Regions from separate parts of the Homo sapiens genome. Here region 2 is linked to region 1. Evidence: fine-mapped expression QTL. A gene starts in region 1. The other region holds a variant in brackets. All regions are shown on one strand. Distances are from middle to middle.

What was found. PIP is the estimated chance that this variant, and not a neighbour inherited with it, causes the effect.
Region 2: its variant is fine-mapped to the expression of SURF2 in visceral fat (GTEx, PIP 0.97).

Annotation. Positions count from the first base shown.
Region 1 is chr9:133,354,143-133,359,471 of GRCh38, forward strand. SURF2 (surfeit 2) reads left to right here and starts at 2,408. Exons shown (of 6, transcript NM_017503.5): 1 at 2,408-2,528; 2 at 2,772-2,926; 3 at 3,569-3,672. The coding sequence starts at 2,451. It overlaps SURF1 (SURF1 cytochrome c oxidase assembly factor), which reads right to left and starts at 2,345. Exons shown (of 9, transcript NM_003172.4): 1 at 2,258-2,345; 2 at 2,127-2,178; 3 at 682-815; 4 at 517-599. The coding sequence starts at 2,311. RefSeq lists silencers at 2,147-2,266, 2,507-2,576.
Region 2 is chr9:133,438,755-133,444,117 of GRCh38, forward strand. It overlaps ADAMTS13 (ADAM metallopeptidase with thrombospondin type 1 motif 13), which reads left to right. Exons shown (of 29, transcript NM_139027.6): 15 at 612-692; 16 at 1,590-1,771; 17 at 3,645-3,780; 18 at 3,860-3,989; 19 at 4,622-4,807. Among named protein-coding and RNA genes, the nearest start is that of CACFD1, 19 kb to the right of the region's middle. The variant C/G (reference allele first, on the strand shown) is at 2,656.

The DNA.
Region 1 (5,329 bases):
TGGACTCCTCAATGAATATTTTATGTGAAATTTTAAAAAATATGTGGGCCAAAACCCCATCTGCAAGCCAAATCTGGCATACTGTTTGCTACCCTGAATGGAAAATGTGGCTGAATATACCTATCTCTGTAGGGCATATTCTAGGGAGAGAGCAGACAAATCATTCAGGGCACTTTTTCAAACGACCACCCTCACGGTGAGACCTACATTATCTGTCCTCAGCCACAGGGCCTTGGGCCCTGTGGAGGATAAGTTTACTATACCTGAAAAAAGGGTGACACCCAGGACTCAAAATAAGACTTTCCTCCATATGTCAGGAGGCGGTCTCAGGTAGCTTCACAAGGGCAGTCAGGTGTCAACAGCAAGCCCAACAGATGACTGATAATGAGAGCTCCCACCTGAGGTCAAGGCAGTGACTAAAAGTCCCACCAAAAGGGGCAAGCTGGCCAGCAGAAGCCAGGGCTCTGCTGTTGAACTCAAGTAAAACAGGCCCTAGGGGGGCAGCCATGCACTCACTCGGCTGGCAGAGGGACAGGCTCAGCCAGAACTCTGGACTCCAACTCTGCAATCAGGTTCAGCTTCCACTTCCGACGCTGGACCTACAGTGACAGAGCATAAGGCCAAGCAGATGGCAGCAAGGTCAAGGGCCCAGAGTTACGCACACCAGATGCCGGTCTTTACCTGCCATGTCCCCAAGCCAAAGGCAGTCACAGGGATGAGGAGCAGGACCCACTGAAGAAAGGAGTCATCTTCCGCTTTTGTGGCAGATGCTTCTGCTGCAGAACTGCCACATCTGCTTGGCCTCCAGGCCACCCCTGGAGAGTTTCACAACACTGACATGGAGCCAGAAGCCCTCGAACACAGACCTGGAGCAGCCCGTTCCAAGACAGACTCCAGTACTGCCAATCAAAACCTGCTGCCTAGAGCCAACTAGCAGCACCTGTATCCAGCCCAGCTCCTAACCCGGTGCCCAGAACAAGGCACACACAGTACGTCTGCCAAGTGAGTAAGTGGGATCTAGGGCTCAGTGCCGGTTTGACCACCAACCACGACCCTGAGTAACTCATGCCTTTTTACTCAAGAATCTAGATGTATTCCACTGCACTAAGATGCACCATTCATCCATTCAAAATGCATTTAATAAGCAGCTACAGTTGGCCGGGCACGGTGGCTCACGCCTGTAATCCCAGCACTTTGGGAGGCCAAGGCGGGCGGATCACGAGATCAGGAGTTCGAGACCAGCCTGACCAACATGCAGAAACCCCATCTCTACAAAAAAATGCAAAAATTAGCTGAGCACGATGGTGCTTCTGTAATCCCAGCTACTCGGGAGGCTGAGGCAGGAGAATCGCTTGAACCTGGGAGGAGGTGGTTGCTGTAAGCCGAGATTGCGCCACTGCACTCCAGCCTGGGCAACAAGAGCGAAACTGTCTCAAAAAATAAAAAATAAGCAGCTACAGTTACTAAGTAGCTTAGTCAGGCACTAGTGGTTGTTGTGTTATGTAGAAAAATATATCAATTCAGTAATGGCTCACAGAGCTCTCTTAACAGCTTTCCATTTTTACAACTCATCGTAAATGTAAAGAGGGAAGAATGTACACAGAAAGTGCCTTTAAGCTCTCAGAGGATGAGTTCCATCCGCTGAAAAGCACCAGGGGCCTTGCGGATACTATTTTTTTTTTTTTTTTTATAAAAAGGCAGGCCTGGGGCAGGCTTGCACAGCACTCTACACACGGCAAAACAGCCCTGTGCTGCACACTGAGAGGAACACGTAAGCCGCGGTGGTTAGATACGCTTTACTTTCAGAGCCCTGGGCTTTCAGCCTGGGCTGGCCACCCATTAGCTGGATGGGACGTTCGGAAGTAACTCTCGAGCCTTCTCTGTAACAGGGGAACGACCAAGGAGCTACCTCTCGCGTTGTGAGGACAAAGCGCTCGCTACATGCCCGGCACACGACCACAATTCCACTGAAAGCATTTTAATACGGAACTTGTCACTCCCAGGGAGCCTCCGCTCAGCCGGCAGTTGGTTCATTTCAATCCCCACGACAACCCTTCAAAGTGCAGGGCAGACAGCAGGTGGCTCTGCCCAGGCGCCTGGATCACAGCCCGGCCTGCAGCCCTCACCTGGGCGCGGGGAGACCCTGAGGACGCTCCTCCAGGCGGCGCTGGCCGGGGCCTGCGGACACGGACGGGCGGGCTGAGCTCCGGGACCCCTCCCCGCGCCCCGCACCCCGCACCCCGCACCCGGCGCTCACCCGTCCCAGCCCCGCCGCCCGCAGCCCCAGCTGCAACGCAGCCACCGCCGCCATCGCACCCGGCCCCGCGGGCGCTTCCGGGACGCAGGAAGCATCTGCATCCGGGGCGCCGCTGAGTCCCGCCCAGAGCCCCGCCCCCGGCTCCAGGTTCTGCGAGCGGCTTCCGCCGGGCTGCTCCGCGGGCGCGTCGGCCATGAGCGAGTTGCCGGGCGACGTGCGGGCGTTTCTGCGGGAGCACCCGAGCCTGCGGCTCCAGACGGACGCCCGCAAGGTTCGCAGCGCGGGAGGGGAACGGAGTGGCGGAGAAGGGCGCAGTTGGGATGAGGGGCTGAGGGGAGGGCAGGGGAGAGGAGAGGGCAGGGGAGAGGGGAGAGGGGAGAGCAGGAGAGAGGGGAGGGCAGGGGAGAGGGCGCGGCGGGATCAGGGGAGGAGAGGGAAGGGGGCGCGGCAGGAGGGGGCACCAGGGAGCGGAGCCCTGGCCCTCCTGACGTCCTGCCCGCCCACGCGTCCGCAGGTGAGGTGCATCCTGACAGGTCACGAGCTGCCCTGCCGCCTGCCGGAGCTCCAGGTCTACACCCGCGGCAAAAAGTACCAGCGGCTGGTCCGCGCCTCCCCGGCCTTCGACTATGCAGAGTTCGAGCCGCACATCGTGCCCAGCACCAAGAACCCGTAGGTGGTCCGCGGCGGCGCGGGGAGGCCCAGGGCAATTAGGACAGCCCCTCCGCTGGACTCCGCCAGTGCTGCAGCCCCTACTCTTTCAGAGTTGGGAGCCCTGGGACCCAGGTGGGCGCCCGGGTGCTGGAATCACCTGCGGTCCCAGCGGCGAGGCCTCTTGGTGAGCTCGTTTGCTCACCTGAGGTTTGTCCTGTGGGGTGTGGCTGCTTCCCAGATGAGTAGAGGCTTGTGATTTGTCACCTGAGGTTGTGAACAGCGTTGGGTTCTTCCCTTAACCCCAGAAGGGGTCTTTGATTTAGCTGGGAGCTAGGCTTTGTAATAATCGTCAAAACAGAGATAGGATGTTTCCATTCATTGAGCCCTTGCTCCAGGTGGAGCCATCCTCTTGCATGAACTCATCCTGGAGCAGTCAGTGAGGCTGCCATGCGTGCTTTTCCGGTAAACATTAAGAGGCTGCAGTCGGCCTGGGTCAGACGGTTCCCCACCCAGCTTCAGAGTGGAATTGCTCCGGGAGCCTTTAAAAGCCCGATGTCCAAGCCGCATGGTAGACTGTCCAGGGATGAGTCCAAGACACAGCCACCAGTCTGAATCCTTGCTGTGAACTGTCCCTACAAATTTGGTCTCTCTGCTCTGTAGGCACCAGTTGTTCTGCAAACTCACCCTGCGGCACATCAACAAGTGCCCAGAACACGTGCTGAGGCACACCCAGGGCCGGCGGTACCAGCGAGCTCTGTGTAAATGTAAGTCCCAGTGGACCCCCATCAGTGCATCGCCATCTGAGTGCATGCCCGCCTTGCCCCAGATGGAGCGTGCTTGAAGGCAGGTCGTCCTTCAGCGATCCGTGTTGATGCATCAGGCCTGTTTTTTGGCACAGTGAAGAGAGGGATGATGGCCCCTGACCCCACAGCTTTTAGTGCAGGCAGGCACAGAGCCAGAAGCAGGCTCGGGAGTGAGTGAGTGTGCGTGGCAATGCGAGGTGTGAAAGAAACTGGGCGAGGGATGTGGGGTGGGCTTGCGGAGACAGGAGGGCTGGGGAGACTCGCTGAGGGATTCGCTCGAGGCTGAGGCTGGAGGGATGTGGTGGCAGTGGGGTCGGGGGAACAGCACCCCAGGGAGAAGCCAGGGTCCATGGAAGTCTGAGGCAAAAATGTGTTGGCTGAGGTAGGCTCCAAAGGACTGGCTGGGCTAGTGTGCACAGCCCGGATGACCCAGAGACCAGGCCAGGAGCACTGCAGTGGGTGTGTGGAGAGGGTTGGGTGGGGGCTGCATGGACAGTGTGCATGGTTGAGAAGGGAGGACTCCTTGACTGCGGTCATCCAGGAAAAGACGGTGGGTTTTGGGGGGAGAATTCAGAGTCCCTTTGAAGGTTTTAAGCTTGAGCTGTATTAGGAAAGGTGTGTATTAGGGAAGTATCGGGCTTTTGAAACAGGGACACCCGTGCTGGATGAAGGAGATGGTTGCACCGTGGATCTGGGTGAGCACCCGGCGAGAGTTTAGAGAAGGGAGAGAGGCCTGGTCCTGAGCCCCAGGAAGAGGCTGGAAGTCCTCCCGTGGTACTGAAGGGAAGATGAGGACAGAAAAATGATAGATTTGATAACACAGAGGCCCCTGGCAACCTTGGTGAGGCACCTGAAGCTTGGCAGGGACACCTGGCTAGAGTGGAGCGTAGGCTGCAGCCCATGAGGGCAGTGTCCGGCCTTAGGCAGGTGCTGGGTCACCAGAAAGCCTTTCTGGAGTCCAGCTAAGGAGGGAAATGGACAGAGGCTGGAGCGGACAGATTCAGGTTGGTTTGCGGATGGGAAGATGCGTCTACGGGCTTCTGATGAGTGCGGAGAGGCAGTCCAGCCCTCCCGAAGCATGAGTGTGGATTGAGAAGGCAGGACCAGGGTTTCTCAAGTAGAAGGCGGGCACCTTGCAGAGGCCTTGCAGGCACAAGGGCTGCCAGCCTGAGGCTTGGACTTTTTCCAGCCAGTGTGTTAGCTGCTCAGGGGTGGGCAGGAAGGCTCTAAGTGCAGGGGGCCACGGGGTTCCCATGAAGAATGGTTATGATGGTGGACTGTGGAGCTGAGATGGGACTGGGGCGCCGAGGTCACTGCAAGGCAGTGGTCCAGGGAAGTCCAAACGTGGCTGTAAGGGGGCTCTGCCTTCACGTTCTGGTGGTGACAAGGCTGCTGCATGGCCATGGGGGTGGGTGGCAGAGACAAGGAGGGAAACAGCCCTGGAGATGGGCCGCCACATCAATGGCCAGGGCCCAGCAGGGCTCATGCAGCCCATGAGGGATGATGATGGTAGCTGCGCTGGGCTGGAGGGCAAGCCCCAGCAGACCCTCCAATATACAAGGGGACAACGGTGGTGACTCCAGTGAGGTCTTTCCATGGAAGCCTTGTCCCAACTCCC
Region 2 (5,363 bases), 85 kb after region 1:
AATACAAAAATTAGCTGGGCATGATGGCGGGCGCCTGTAGTCCTAGCTACTCAGGAGGCTGAGGCAGGAGAATTGCTTGAACCCAGGAGGCAGAGGTTGCAGTGAGCCGAGATCCCTCTGCACTCCAGCCCGGGCAACAGAGTGAGACACTGTCTCAAAAAAAAAAAAAAAAAAGTATGGACGTTGTGCATTCTGTGGCAGCTACCCTCTTCTCTCCTGCTCAAGAAATCCCACTGAGAGGGACACAAGTGAATGAGAGGGTTGGTAGTTACATTTGGAAAATCTTTGACTTTGGTGTATATATGAGGTCAAAAACCATTTGCAAATGCCAGTGCTTCTATGGAGAGCAGAGACTTGAGCCCTGCCTCCCTCTGGCTTGCCCCACTGTGCTGGAGAACCTTGGACCCGGTCCCTTCTCCCAGCCAGGGCAGAGCCTTGGCAGGTGGTCCTCCAGCCTGCTTTTAATTGCCCCCATGACAGGGGACTCACTGCTGCTGGAGCCAGCCCCATGGCATTGTTCAATTTTTCCCGACCAGCTAAGATCAGCTCCCTTTGTCTGTGGTGTGGTGGCTGTGAGGTCCACGCATCTCTCCTTCTTTTCTTCTTTCTAGAATATGTCACGTTTCTGACAGTTACCCCCAACCTGACCAGTGTCTACATTGCCAACCACAGGCCTCTCTTCACACACTTGGGTGAGTTGACTGGAGGACTCCCACCCAGTTAGCTAGACTGCAAAGGTGCAGAGCACTGTTGCCAAGATGCCCTCACTTCTGACATCACCCGCAAGTTCAGGGGGTTCCCCAAACCACCCTCAGGCTTGATAGTTGACTAGGAAGACTCCCAGAGCTCACTGAGAGCTGTGGCACATGGCTGCGGCTCCTTCCAGAAGAACACAGGTTAGAATTGTCCAAGGGAAGAGATGTAGGCAGAGTCTGGGAGGGTCCAACCAGGAGGCCTGATGTCTCAGGGATGTGACACCCTTCTAGCATTGGAGCGTGGCCATACGCATGGAGTATTGCCCACACAGAAAGCCCACTGAGTGGGAGTTGAGAGTTTTTCCTGGGGTTTGAGTGCAAAGACATGATTGACTAATTGGCCAGGTGGATACTCTCAGTCTCTTGGTGACCCAGCCCCTATCCTAAATCACATAGTTGGTCTTTCTGGTACAGCCAGCCCCTGCCCTAAAGGAGGACACTTCTGCCTGGTGTGACCCGTGTTTCCTCTTGGAAGCCAACAGCAAAAGCTGGACTTCTCTTTGGGCAAGGCCCGCTTCTTTGCTATTGAGGGCCACAGTGGGTCTTTCTGGAGTGTGTCTGCACCTAACCTTTGAAGCCTTGGTTGCCGGCACTTGCCATGGGGTCCCTGAGCCCTGAGCCTGTTGAGTTCTGTGCGTGAGTGCACTTGGTCATAGCACTCACCAGGTTGTGGAAAGAGGCCTAGAGCCTCCGCTGTGGGGAAGCCTCTAGCTCAGATGCCTGTGGCTCCTTAGAGGAGGGCTGGGGACCCCGGGAAGGAGAGTCACTGACATGTGCCTGTGAGGAGGATGGGTGCTCAGCTCCACACAGCTAACAGGGCTGGTTCCCCGACAGCGGTGAGGATCGGAGGGCGCTATGTCGTGGCTGGGAAGATGAGCATCTCCCCTAACACCACCTACCCCTCCCTCCTGGAGGATGGTCGTGTCGAGTACAGAGTGGCCCTCACCGAGGACCGGCTGCCCCGCCTGGAGGAGATCCGCATCTGGGGACCCCTCCAGGAAGATGCTGACATCCAGGTCAGCAGGAGAGCCTGGGGGAGGCCAGTGGGGGCTTCTTCTTGGGGGCTATGGCTGCTTGCTCGTTTGTCTATCCATCCATTCCCTGATTCGTTCATTTATTCATTCAGCGGTCACTTACAGGGGACCCACTATGTGTTGGGCCCTGTGCTAGGCAAAATGTAGCTAGCTCCTCCAGGGGCTTAGGGTCCCACAAATATCCAAATGTGCCTGTGCCCAGAGCCCGTGGGAGAAGGCCCTGCAGTTCTGGGATCAGGTAAGGTTGGAGGGCCCAATGCAGGGGTCCAGGGCTCCCTGGGAAAGAGTGATGGAGCTGAGGTGTCAGATGAGCAGATGTTGCTGGGCCAAGCAGGGAAGGAAGCGTATGGCTGAGGGAACAGTGTCAGTGTGGGAGGGATGAAGGAAGGTCCTACTGTGTGGGTTTGTGGGGAGATGAAGGCATGGACGCAGGTGCAGTGGCATCTGGGGAGTAGGCCTTGGTGCTGAGGAAGCTGAGAACAGATGCTGGCTCTCACTGCTTCTTTGGTGCAGTGTGTGTGGGAACCGGAAGGCCTTGTTCAGGCGTGTCCTCAGTGACGTGTGCTCGCCCATGTATGTCCCCATTGGTGCTTCGCTGAGGAAGGCACGTGGAGGGTGGAGAGACATAAGCGCAGGCTGAAACAGACCTGAGAACCTTGGGAGAGGGGCCCAGTCTCAGCGGCCGGAGCAGCGTCCTCTGCCCCTACAGCAGCCAGAGACAGGAGGGCCTCCCACAGATCAGGCCAGGCCGGGCCAAAGCAAGCCCCTGTGAGCGGCTTATCCCTTCTCTTCCCCTGATATGGTTCCCTTCCTCCCCTCCCCTTGCCTGGGACATTGTATCCAGATGCTAGCTGCCGAGTGGCTCT[C/G]CCATCATCCTCTGCAGTGTGTAAAAAAGCAGATTCCCGGGTCCTCTGCATATTCCCTGAATCAGGACTTCCCTGTGTTGGGCCTGAGAAACCGCACCGTAACCAACACAGGCTTGCGGCACTGGCCAGATGTGGGCATCGAGGGGGCAGGTGCGGAATGTCACCTCGCCCTGGGCTCTGGCCTCCAGGCTGGCCTCTTTCTTGGGCTGGTCTTGGGCACAGGACCCAGTTACCCTCCTGAAGAGCCTTAGGCCCAGGAACCTGCTGAAGTTCTTCCTAGTGCTCTCCGGGCCAGTCCCAAGCCAGTAGCTGGCCACAGGTCCCCAGGGATCCAGTTTCTTCCTGCCGACCCTACCACAGGTCCCCAGGGATCCAGTTTCTTCCTGCCGACCCTACGGGCCTCAGCTCTGGCTCCAGAAGCACTTTCTGTGCTGGCCCTGCCCTAGCCCTTCTTGGGCTCCTTAGCCCAGCCTAAGGTGGGCCTGCCTCCTCCACTGCACTTTATCCTCTACCCAGCCAGCTTAGGGAACCTTCTCTGTGCTGCCCAAATACCCTATCATGTAACCCACCAATGACTTGGTAATTACCTCCCCGAGCCCTCTATCCCAACCCACTGAGAGCTCCTTGCAGCTCAGCCAGTGTCCTGTGCACTGTGCTATCCCCAGAGCCTGGTACAGGTCAGTGTTGGTGATTGCTTCCCGTTATTTTTGTCTTTGTTGTTTTTTTAGAGAGGGTCTCACTGTTGGCCAGGCTGGAGTGCTATGTTGCCCAGGCTGCTCTGAAACTCCTGGGCTCAAGTGATCTGCCTGCCTCAGGCTCCCAAAGTTTTGGGTTTACAGGCATGAGCTACCGTGCCTGGCCAGTGATTGCTTGCTGAACGAAAGATTATAGGGATGCAAGAAGAAGTTGGAAGGCTTCCCAGGGGAGGTGGCCATGACAGTGACCCTCAGGGAACCCACTGGACAAGGCCTGAAGCTCTTTGTCTGCAGGTTTACAGGCGGTATGGCGAGGAGTATGGCAACCTCACCCGCCCAGACATCACCTTCACCTACTTCCAGCCTAAGCCACGGCAGGCCTGGGTGTGGGCCGCTGTGCGTGGGCCCTGCTCGGTGAGCTGTGGGGCAGGTGAGACCTGGGGAAGGCTCATCCACAGCACGGCTTGCCCCTGCAGGGAGGCGGCCTAGCCCTCCCTCTTCCCTCCCAGGGCTGCGCTGGGTAAACTACAGCTGCCTGGACCAGGCCAGGAAGGAGTTGGTGGAGACTGTCCAGTGCCAAGGGAGCCAGCAGCCACCAGCGTGGCCAGAGGCCTGCGTGCTCGAACCCTGCCCTCCCTAGTGAGTGTGGTGCTGTCTGCGCAGCTCCAAGGGGGAGAGAGGGTTCCGCTGGGGCTGCTGGGCTCTGTCCCTGGCCTATGGGGCCCATGTGGCAGGGCCGGGCTGAGCTGCTCCTGTGCAGGCTCTCATTACCCCTGCCCACAGCCCTGCAAGGGGGGCTCTGTGAGTGCCCCCATTCTGCAGGTGAGGACACTGAGGCTTGGGGCAGACATGGTGACAATGTCAGCCCAGTGGGACCCACACCTGCTGCCACCTTGTCTGGGCCACCGAGGCCTCTCTTGAGCTCAGGTACTCATGGTGAGATGGAGGTGATTGCCTACCTGGAGGGTTGTAGGGAGACTTGCGGAGCTCCTGGTGCAAAGCCCCTGGCTGTCACCACACCTGACGGGGCACACTGTTAGGGACGAGGCCATTCCTGCTGGGTGCAGGACAGGGCAGCTGCTCACCAGCCTGTGATTCGGTTGTCCTCAGGCTCAGCCGTCTGGCAGCCTGGGAACACCTGGAGAGGCTAGGCTGGCCGTAGTGCCCATTGCTTGTCCCAGACCGGGGGAGTACATCAGCACCTGCCACCCCATCACCCCAGGCCAGCCTGGGACCTGGCCAGGGTCCCGACGCTCTGTCTCCTTCCTCAGCTGGGCGGTGGGAGACTTCGGCCCATGCAGCGCCTCCTGTGGGGGTGGCCTGCGGGAGCGGCCAGTGCGCTGCGTGGAGGCCCAGGGCAGCCTCCTGAAGACATTGCCCCCAGCCCGGTGCAGAGCAGGGGCCCAGCAGCCAGCTGTGGCGCTGGAAACCTGCAACCCCCAGCCCTGCCCTGCCAGGTGAGCCCAGGGCTAGGTGGGGCTGGGAGAGGGCCTTCCTGGCAGAGCTCGTCCCTGCGCTGAGCCCCCATCCTTCTGAGAATCCCCTCCTCCTGAGGCCTCCGGCGGGGCCTCACCATCCAGGGTGATGGGCAGTGTCACCTGGCGGTTGTAAGTGCTGCTGTCAGAGTTCCTTACTACCCAGGAGAGCCTGGGCCCATTGTTTCCCTCTCTGAGCTTCCGAGCCCCTGCTCTGAAATGGGGATGCCGACCTGCCTGGGGAGGGGGGGCTTCGAGGATGAGGTCAAACTGAACGGAGTGGGAGATGTCACTTTCTCATCACCACCATCTCCCCCGTGCCCACGTGGCTGCATCTCATCCCCTCAGTGTCCAAGTTGACAGTGGCTTATCATCCTGCCCTGCCACTAACGAGCTGAGTGACAGGGCAAGTCCCCTCCTCTGTGGGCTTCAGTTTTGCGACCTGTCCGGTGGGAGGGGATTGGTCTGGATTGTTGGTGGCCCACTCATAGCTCTGGACTCCTTTCCCCGCCTCGTCATCCGTGGCAGACAAAACAGT